Regions from separate parts of the Homo sapiens genome. Here region 2 is linked to region 1. Evidence: fine-mapped QTL for protein levels in blood plasma. A gene starts in region 1. The other region holds a variant in brackets. All regions are shown on one strand. Distances are from middle to middle.

Region 1 (5,389 bases):
AGCCGACATCACAATGAAGAGACTCTTCTTTCTAATGTGGATAAAGCTTCTCCTGTATCTGCCTTCCTCCTAGTAACACTGACTAAAATGTAATGCTGACTACCTAGATCACAAAGAAGAATTTTCTACAGAAGCCAAACAAGGCCATTGTTTACATGCCACATGTGCTAAGTCTCAATCTTGACATTCCCCAATCCAACTTCCTGGCAAATATTGTTTGACTTAGGGAACTGAGTTAACAGATATTGAACATACGGCTGTTGAGTACCTTCACTTATCAGTGGGCCAAGAAAAAAAATGCCAGGAACCCAATTATATTTGAATCAGATTAAATATCTATGTTTTGATCCACATCTGGTGATATAGTTATAGGAATTTAACTTTTTGAAGGACTGGTTACTGAAGGCCCATTGGGCAGCTTTAGAACTGCATTACCTTGAGAAAGTGTTGTAACTTCTGAGCGCCCTCGCCAGCTTGTTAATTTGAACCATAATGACTGCCTCCTCCTTTGCAGGGCTCATATGGAGTTCATCTATGTGTATGCAGGCTCTTTGTAAATAGTGAATGTCTACAAATATAAGTGATTATTATTATGCTTTTTATACCTCCTGTAGGTGTTTGCTGGTCATGGACTGATTGACTTTTTCCAACATTATGATTCCTATGTAACTGATCTCCTGAAATATCTACCATCTCCACCTATAAAGGAGATTAAATTTTAGGGAGTAAAGTCACTTCTCTTGCTATCCTGCTTATCATTACTTATGATTAGGCAGAATTCTGCTGGTTAAGATATGATTCCAGGGAGGCCTAGAAGAGTCCTTCTGTGTGCTTCTTTCCCAAATATATTCCTGACAAACTTGCTAATAATGAAAAGTTCCAAAATTGGGAATTCACTTCATTGTCACTATTCTAATGGAATTACACTTTAAGCTCTACCATTTATATACACGTTATTATGAACTGAGTTCATCTAATCATTTTAATAGGTTTTCAACAGAGGGAAGAAAATTGAACATGAGCTAATGGTAGGGACCAAAGTCTCAGAGAACAAGAACTCTGCAACTGCTAATAAGAGAATTTTTGTCTCTGTAGCTGGTGAAATATTTGAATGATATCCAATGATTAATGTTTCTTTAATTCTCTAGGTGACCAAAAATCACACAGAATTATCTAGCAATAAATCCTCTTTACATAACAGCCAAAGCACTTGGGGTTGAGGAAAGAGAAGAGAAATAGGTCTTACCCAGCAGGTCTGGTGTCTTCAATGGCTCTATCCACTGGGATCAAATCGCTAAGGTAGACATTGAAGTTTCCTTCTTTCCATCTTCTTTCTGCCTCCTTCTCCTTTCCATGGGGGACAACTACAGGACGCCCAAACTGCCCTGGAGCTTTGGGGTCCCTTGGAGAAAGTGTCACATCAATTCTTAACACCTGGTGCGTTCCACTGTCTTCAGGTAAAAGGGCTTTTATATGACTCTGGTTGTATTCTGTAGAGGGGGCTTTGGCAGTTATGTTGATTTTTGCTGGCTCTAGCCCTCCAGTTAAAGCATGGTTAGTTTGGGACAGTGGCACTCTATGTGGAGCAAGTGAAGAGGAAGACATCTCACTTCTATTCCTGGAAATGTGTTTACTTTGGCTTTTACCCAATACTTTAGGAAATATTGTTTTGGTTTTAGAATTAGAGACCTCTTTGGGGTCTGCCTTTTGCTCTTCCTCTTTGGTTATAATCACAAGATGGCTTTCAGAGAAATTGAGTTTCTTCCCATGAGCCCCTCTAGCTCCATCATCCTTTGACAAACTTCCCAAAGGTGTCTCATTAATAGATTGCTTCCTTAAGCGATTTGAATTGACAGTGAACTTAGGAAAAGGAAGACTCGTATTGGCTTTGTGTTTATTTGCATTGACTTCTTTGCTCTGAGTCTTAGTTTTGTTTAAGGCCATGGCTTCCCCAGACTTCGGCACTGCTGTGCTGGCAGGGTGTGCCCTCTCGTTTGCTACTGCCTGTGATCGCTGCTTTGGTCTATCAGTACTAAGACTGATGGTCACATTCAAGTCCCTTTCAGCTGCTAGTTTTGATGTGTCACTGCTGGGACTATGACTCTTCCGGGGCTCCTGTTTTAAACTGACACGTCCCATGTGTACTGATATTTTGACTACCTGAGTTCCTTTTGCTGCTATGAATGAGGTCTTTGGAGCCCCCTGAGCTGTCGTTTGCTTTGGTGTCCCCTGGTGAGAGGAGGCTTCAGGTTTGGTGCCTCTCCCGTCTGTCTTCTGCTTGTTAGGAGTCACAGGGAGGGTCTGCAGATGTGCAGGATGCCACAACGGCACAACCTTGCCCCTTCCCAGGGCATTCTGCATTTTTCTTTCCCTCTGGGTTTGGTCCAAGTCCACCTCAACCTTGAGCACACTCTCCTCAGTTTTTCTAACATTCTCTTTGCCCCATGCCCCTTTCCCATGTCCCCTTAGGGGAGGTTTCATCTCTTTTATGCTGCTGTAAAAAATTTTTCCTTGGTCTGGCTGAACTCTGAATCCTATCCGCTCCCTCCTCACAATGTCTTCCTTGATGACCCGAGTGTTGATCTCACTGAATGAGAGGCGGAGAGCTGCCATGTCAAAGAGGAGCCAGATGACAGAAGCTACAAAGATAAATGCCAAGACTCGCCCACTTCCTCGGAAAAACTTTCGGATCCTGTTCATGGTACAAAGCTTTCCCTAGCAGCCTGCCCTCCCTTAGCCTGCTTACCTTGAGTGGAGAGGAAGCTGAAGTAGCAGCAGCAGCAGCAGCAGCAGCAGAGTTGCCAGAAAGTGACCCCCTCCCCTGAACACAGCAGGAAGCAGCAGTCCAAGGGGAAAGCTCAGTTCCTACCGCTTGTCAGTCTCTGCCTGCGTGGCATTTCATAGCAGAGCATCTGTGCCTGCTTGGCTGGCCCTGGCTAAGTTCTGATAAACACTGGCCTTAGGTCACTCCAGGAGCAGTTGATTCCAGCCACCGAACAGTTCAACATATCACTTGTCTTGTCTCCGGGAGCCCATGTCCACCTTCCTACAAGCCCAAGAAAAGGTGGGGGCCAGATTGAGACTGCCGTTTCTCTCCTCCCCGTTCTCCGTCTGCACGCTGTAACTCAACACCACTTCTCATAAGGAAAACATTTCATGCCATTACCCAGAAAACTTCATTCAGCTCTCACCTTCTGTGTTATGTGAGAGCATGTGTGTTTAAACGGCAATTAAAGAGGAAAAAAAGCTATCTAACTTGGAGGGCATGTGTTCCTGGTTTGTGACCCCACCTACCCTACTCCTGCTCATTAACCCTGTTGTAGCCAGGTGCCAATGCTCTGCCTGAGGAATTTATCACTGAAGTTAACATTTCAGCTTTAAGACATAACAGCTTAAAGAAGGGGCCTGGTATATCCTCACTTCCAGAGATGTATATGTTTAATTATTTAGATCATTCATTCAAGGGGTTTCAATGTATTTCTTTGTAAGCCAACTATTTTTTTTTCACTAATCCATCTGTTTTTATTATTACATTTGATTACAAATAAACTTAATTTGTCATACTGCTATAAAAGTTTCTAAACACTTTGTTATGGTCTGAATGTTTATGTCCACCCAAAATTCATATGTTGAAACCTAATCATAAATGTGATAGTATTAGGAGGTAGGGCTTTTGAAGGTGATTTCATTATAAGGATAGAGCCCTCATGAATGGGATCAGCACCCTTAAAAAAGAGGCCCTATTGCCTTGCCATTCCACAAAGTGAAGACATAATGAGAAGGTGCCATCTATGAACCAGGAAATGGGCCTTCACCAGTCAACGAATCTGCTGGTGCCTTGATTTCTGACTTCTCAGTCTCTAGAACTGTGAGAAATAAGTTTCTGTTGTTTATGAGTCACTTAGTCTATGTTATTCTTCTATAGTAGCCTGAACAGATTAAGATACACTTACTCTCAGTTTCAGTACTTATCTCGTCTTAAACCAGCAAGCAACAGTTTCAGGACCACACCAGGACTTGGACCAGATTTTGAGTGATGCTGGTTGACTGGTAGGGTAGCAGTTCCGCCACAGGCTTTTCATTAGAACCACTTGAAACAAGATCCCCAAAACTCTGGTCAATTGATGAGAGAGGAGGTGGAGATGACATTTGGGCTGATATTGTATTAAATATATATATATATATATATATATATATATATATATATATATATTTTTTTTTTTTTTTTTTTTTTTACAAAGCTTCCCAGGTCTTTCAAATGTGCAGCTAAAGTTGAGAAACACTGGTCTAGAAAAAAAGTCTCAATTTTTTGTTTGTTTGTTTTTGGTTTTTGAACATTGCCTATGAGACATTTAATTTTAGGTGTCTACTTGACTGGGCTAAGGAACACCCAGAGAACCAGTAAAGCATTATTTTTAGGTATATCTGTGAGGGTGTTTCCAGAAGAGATTGGCATTTGACTCAGTGCACTGAGTGGGGAGGAGATGCCCTCACCCAATGTGGGCAGGCACCACTAATTGGTTGAGGGCCCAGATAGAAAAAAAGGCAGAGGAAAGGTGGATTCTGTCTCTGTTAGTGAGCTGGGACATCTTTCTTCTTCTGCCTTTGGACTAGAACTTTAGATTCTCTGGCTTTGGCCTCTGGGGCTTGTACCAGTCTGCCCCCACAACCTCCACATCCCTCACTAGGTTCTCAGGCTTTTGACCTCAGACTGAGAGTGATGTTATTGGCTTCCCTGGTTCTCAGGCCTTTGGACTCAGAATGTGCCATGTTACTGGCTTTCCTGGTTCTCCAGCTTGCAGGTGGCCTGGACTGAGGTTTCTCAGTCTCCATAACCACATGAGCCAATTCCTGTAATAAACTGCAACTCACTTATCTACCTCTATGAATCCTATTGGTTCTGTTTCTCTGAAAAATCCTGGCCAATACAGTCTACAACTTGTGTGACATTCCTTCCCTGTCTAAAGTACAGTCTAATAAAATCTATGCATTCCCATAACAACTAAATCAGAATACACATTTTGACATTGCCAGTTGTAAAGATTGTCCATAGAGTTTGAGAAGCACTTCTCGGGACCACTGTCCTTCTCTCTGAGGAACTCTGAGTGATTTGTGGACAACACTGCTGTTCATTACTCTAGTGTGGGGAGGGTCTAGCTTCCATGCTTTGAGGTAAACTTATGTTCCCAATGACTTGGGAGGGGAAGGAGAGATTCCAAATTCATATATATATCTCAAGCACTTTGCTAAGTTCTTTCCATTGACTATCTCACTCAATCCTCACAAGAATCTAATGTGAAGGAGTAAATTACAATATGTATTTTGTAGTCAGCAAATGAAACCTTAGAGAGGTAAAGCAACTTCTGGTAGAGATTGGAGGGGTTGGGTC
Region 2 (5,389 bases), 85 kb after region 1:
TTTCCCATGGTCTTGGGCAGCTCCGCCCCTGTGGCTTTGCAGGGTATAGCCTCCCTCCCAGCTGCTTTCACGGGCTGGCATTGAGTGGGGACACACAGCCAAACCATATCAGAAACAAAAAACACTGATGATAGTATCGTGGTTTACTGTCTCATAAAACTAATGACCAAGATGTTTGGTGAGCTTTGATTCAATAATTTCATGCAAACCTTCTGTTATTTCTGACCTTCTCCTCTGCTATATTAGGTGTCTACCTTATGCCGAGACTGGTTCTTCTTGCATTTTCAAGGGGGAAGTAGTTCCTCATGTCAGTTGACCCTGCAGGTCTTCTTGTTCCCAGTCTGCAAAAGCCAGAGATGAACGTTTTATGTCAAGCACAGAATGCAAGTCTTTCCTTTTAGTCAGGCTACATCCCTGTCCCTAAACCTGTAGGAGACACCAGGAGGGAGCTATTTGTGGATGAACCAGGACCCAACTCTGCAACTGGGGATGAACTCAACTTCCCTATCATGATAGGAAGAGGTGAGAAGCTAGCAAAATTGAGGTTCTGGTAAAAAGAAAAGAAAGACAATGGAAATTGGCTAGTCTACCCAAAGTTTTCTGCCTTCATAAAGAGAATCTATGCTTTTTTATGGACCCCTGTGCTTTTTCTAAAGCTAATTATTTATAAGTGCTATCAAATAATTCTTAACTAATTACAAATTACACATATTAAGTGATTCAATTTATATCAAGTTAAGAGATTTAAAGTTATATAAGTGCATACAAAGAAGAGACATTTATCTAACTTCCAGAGATTATCATGCAGTGTTCAGAGCAAATCTGGATTTTTCCTTCCAAGTTTAAAAAAGAAGCATTTACCTTAAATTGCTTAGGGTGGTCTTTTGCAGTAAGACTAGAGTACGTTTCCTCTTTGTTAAAATGCTTTTCACAATCCCAAGACCTTTATTGCTTGGAACAAACTCAAATATTAATTTGAATATAGCATACTTTTTGATTTATTGTAATGGTAAATAGTTCAGATGCTATAGCAGGAAGCCTTTGAATCCTTCCCGGTCTCCCCACAGCCTCTTATTATTTGTGTCATCTTGGGTTGGATAATAAGCCATGCTGGTCCTTAGTTTTCTTGTGTGTAAAGTGGAGTTAATAATAGAACTTCCTTCATAGGATTGTTTTCATGATTAAAAGTGTCAGGACAAGATCTGTGCCTATATTATAATGAGAGCTCAATAAATACAAGCTAATAGTATTAGTTTCCTTAATAATCTTTATAGGTTTATTATTAAAATGATCCTGAAAATTATACTAATATAAATAGTCATAATTTATTAAGTCCCTACTACATGCTAGGAACTATGTAATTATATAATTATAAACTACATATAGGAAAGGAATATTCTCACCGTTTCACAAACGTATGTTCAGAGGATTTGAGTAACATCTTCTAGTTCCCACAGCTAGGAGACAGTTGAGCCAAGATTTTAACTCCTAACTTTCTATCTCTAAAGGCCTCCACTCTTCCCCTGTTTCATAAAGTAAAATCACTTTCTTGACATTTTATAGTCTTGTGACAGGGTTTTACAGACTTTTTAAGGAATCTAAGCTCCATTTAATTTTTCTCCAAAGTATTTACAACAGTTTTAAATGAAATAATAGTAAGTAGAGCTAGAGGTCAAATTTTGCAAATTTGGCATTACCGGCCAAATCTGGCCTACAGATGTGTTTGTTTGGCTTATACAATGTTTACATTTGTCTGAATTAATTACCGATGTTTAAAAGTGGGAGACTTCACATAAGAATGAAGGTTTATGGCTTCTGTTGAATTTATGAAAGTTCTGGCAATTCTGGTTCCATGTGCTTCCTTAAAAATCATTGAAATTTAGCTAAGTAAGGACTGTACCCTTTTAGACTGGACCAAGTCTCTGGCTTGATCATTCCCACTTATTTTAGTTGCCAGCCTCTCCCTGTAGATTGTAGTTTGTTTTGTGATCTTGCTGTAGGTGGTGAAAGTGATTTTTAAAATATGGTTTATTTTTCTTGGAGGAAAATGAAATGATAACATTAACCTTTCACTTACTTTTCCTGGTGTAGACTTAAATATACTGTTGTCAGCAAAAGTCTATTTCCCCATTTTGACACCGGAGCTGAAATGCTCTTTAGAAATGTGAGTCTCAGAAAAGATTCTCAAAAAGGGGACACCGTCATGTTCTCTGCTTGCCTAATAGAGGGCTTTCTGATTTGGGATT[G/C]AGCAAGGATAAACAACCAGCCTTAGAAGCATGTCCCTAAAACAGCACAATTCCTTGACGTCAGATCAGGTTTTCAAGCCATTAGGTCCTTCGTTCAGTGAGTATTTAAGATCTTAACACATGAATCATTCATAGAGTGAAGGAAAGAGCCTGCGGAATGTCTTCCTCTGTGGCAGGCATATGGATGAGATGTGGTATTGGAGGGTGTCCAAAACTCAGATTTCCAGAGAGCTTGGCAAGAATATGGAGAGAGGGATTAAGAAGTAGGAGGTTGTTTTAAAGCTTAAAGCATCTGTGCCAGTGGGACAAAAACACCACTACCTTTACGTTTTCCGCCCCTAAACTAACGAAGTTCTGTGGTTGTTTATTCTAGAAAAATAGGCGTGCCTTCCTTTAGGGAAAAATCAAAAGGCAAAATTCTACATTTACAAAAAAAGAGAGATTGGGAATTTATGTCATAGAGTACTGTCCTTTATAGAAAGATCTTCTGCAGTTTTTTTTTCCCCCAGAAAATAGCCTTCCCTAGGACATTTGTGTTATTGTTGTAGTTATAAAGAATTATAAGCAGATGAGAAAACTAGGGTTTGAGAAGTTGCCAAGTGTTCGTAGCAATCTCTGTGAGACCCGGGTTGAACTGGTCCTGGTGTCCTGGGTTTATCTCATCCTAGAGAACACACTCAACACTGTGCCCTGTGCCTCTCAAACTGCCAGTGCACCTTGTTTTCACAAAATAGTGTCACCCAAACCACAGACCTGTAGCTAAGACTATGCATCCTGGTTCACGTGAAACTAAGTATCCTTTCTATATATTAAAGATCTTTTATTTAGAAGTAAAGGAAGAAGGTACTTGAGAATTATTAATAACAACATTTTGGCACCTTTGTTCACTGAATTGTGGGGAGGTACCCAAAATGAATAGCAGATGTGGGAAGGACAGTAACAATAAGGCTTCTGTAAATGGAAAAATCCACAATATCTTTCAAGCATTTTCCAGAAGACTGAACTTTTGTACACTCTTTGTTGTTTTAAAATGTGCTCATATTGCTTGGGTGTTTTATTCATAATGAGACAGGTCACATTCATGCCAATGTACATGTGTGTTTTGAAATCCAGTAAAATAAAGGAAAAAAAAAAAAGTAAGGTATGGTAAAATTTCACATAAAATAGGCTTTTGGCTTATATTTACCGCTGTAGTATCTTCTTTAAAGATCTTATGTGAAGGGAAAAACACCTTAATAATATGTAGTTCCTTTTAGTCATATAACCTATTTGATTGCTTCAGAAGTTTGAGGCGGCATGGGTTTATGTCGACCCTTAATAAAACCATGGTTTAGTAGACAAAATATACCTGGGTTGTTTATTTTTCAATTAAAAACAATATTCTTAATACTTATTTGAAAAATACTTGTTTGGTGAAGAGGTAGGTTAATGACTAATAATTCTTTTAGATATGGCCACAAAATGGTGAGCACTCATGTCTGTGGAGTAGGAGGTGAAGAAAGAACCAAACACATGAGGTGATGATGAATAATTCCTCATGAGCAACCAGCAGTAATCATTTCCACAGCCATATTTAAAGTGCTGCATTGTGTTTGTCCAAGATCCAACCATGGACAGTAGACAATTTGGTATGTTTAAATTTTGCTTTTTGACTCATGGAAATAAACAGTCAGCACCTCAATTCAAGAACAGAGGCTCTCCAGCAAAACCAACAGCACACCAGGAAGAGGTTTACCTGTCTATTTATTCATTGGGCTGAAAGTAAAAAGACTCTTACAATAAAGAAATCAAGTAAAGTTTTTCAGCAAATGATAAATATGGAATATTTAAAGGTTTCAATCAAGGCAAACATTGCAAATAGATGGCATTTGAGTTTGTAATATATTATTAAATAAAACCAGTTAACCTATTGATCAGCACAGATAACAGGATTTATCCCTTTGTTAGAATGCTATTACACATGTAAAATTGCATTAACTGTGCACTTAGGCATGTTTTCTTTATGTGGCATGAATGGTCCCAGTTTATCCAGGTGTCTTGTATGCATGCCCTTTCGTTGTACCCTTCACTGCCTCGGTGATTGCCCATGTGACTTGCTTGGACCAATGGTTGGTAGCAAACTTGAGACAAGTAGAGTCTTGAAATAGCACTTGTAGGTTTCTATTTTTTTTCTCCTCAATTTTGCCATGAGAACATGCTTAAGCTCACCTGCTGAATGATGAGAGACACATGGTCTAGTCACTTCTGTGACTATAGCCATCAGATATGCGAGTGAGCCCACCTGAGACCAGCCCAGCAGAATTCAACTTGATTTGCTGACTTGAAGGCTTGTAAGCTTAGTAAAGGCTATTTAAGACATTAAATTTTGCGGTACTTTTATCATGCAGCATTTATATGCAATAGAGAGGAATACTTTTACTGAGGCAAAGAAGAAAGACATTTAGAATAAAGATATCAAGAAAAATAGATGTAAATAACTATGTTATTGCAATTGATACATAAGAAAAAAATTTTAAGGTTTCAATCATGGAAAACATAGTAATTAGATGGCATCTGAATTCTAGTTATTGTTAAAAGAAAATGTGTAATTAGTTGACCAGTATAGATCTGTCAAATATTTCTTTCTTTAATTAGATAAGTTGTTACACATGTAAAATTGCCTGACTTGGGTACATATGCATGTTTTCTCTGATTGCCTTATAAATGTGGCATGAATGTGCTTATATGGTTAATGCTGTTCTTTTTATGTGTCTTTCTTCATTTTATGCTAGAGTTCTCAGCAATTGGATTGATGTCAAAATTGGAACATTTTCAAAATACTTGGGATAAAATCAAGGAGAAAGTGAGGTGAAAAAATCTGTAGAGGTAAAACAAGAAAAAAGGTTTTACATCAGAATATGTCTATCAGTGAACTCTTGTGATATGGATCTACCCAGATGGGCAAGTATCAGTCCTATTGAAATAGCAGCCTTCTTGAATAATTTCCACTCAGCATAGTACAAATTAATGAAGCCTTTTTTGAGAGCAATATGATATAAAATGAGTCATATCTTAGTCTTCTTGCAAATGTAAATTGTCAACTATGAGGCCCTTTGGAAATAGGTGGATGGCATGGAGTTTTATTTATATTGGTTTATATAAGT

Which allele goes with the higher level. Alleles are on the strand shown, and positions count from the first base shown. The strength of an association depends on the size of the effect and on how common the allele is.
With allele C in place of G in region 2, the plasma level of the protein whose gene starts at base 3,078 in region 1 is lower (moderate association).

What was found. PIP is the posterior inclusion probability: the model's chance that the variant is causal. The UK Biobank Pharma Proteomics Project read protein levels with antibody pairs (Olink). The fine-mapping took linkage between variants from a reference panel, not from the people measured, so its PIPs are less certain.
Region 2: its variant is fine-mapped to the plasma level of the GALNT5 protein (UK Biobank, PIP above 0.99).

The regions. Positions count from the first base shown.
Region 1 is chr2:157,255,394-157,260,782 of GRCh38, reverse strand. It overlaps GALNT5 (polypeptide N-acetylgalactosaminyltransferase 5), which reads right to left and starts at 3,078. Exons shown (of 10, transcript NM_014568.3): 1 at 1,247-3,078. The coding sequence starts at 2,700.
Region 2 is chr2:157,170,853-157,176,241 of GRCh38, reverse strand. No RefSeq gene overlaps it. Among named protein-coding and RNA genes, the nearest start is that of GALNT5, 84 kb to the left of the region's middle. The variant G/C (reference allele first, on the strand shown) is at 2,247.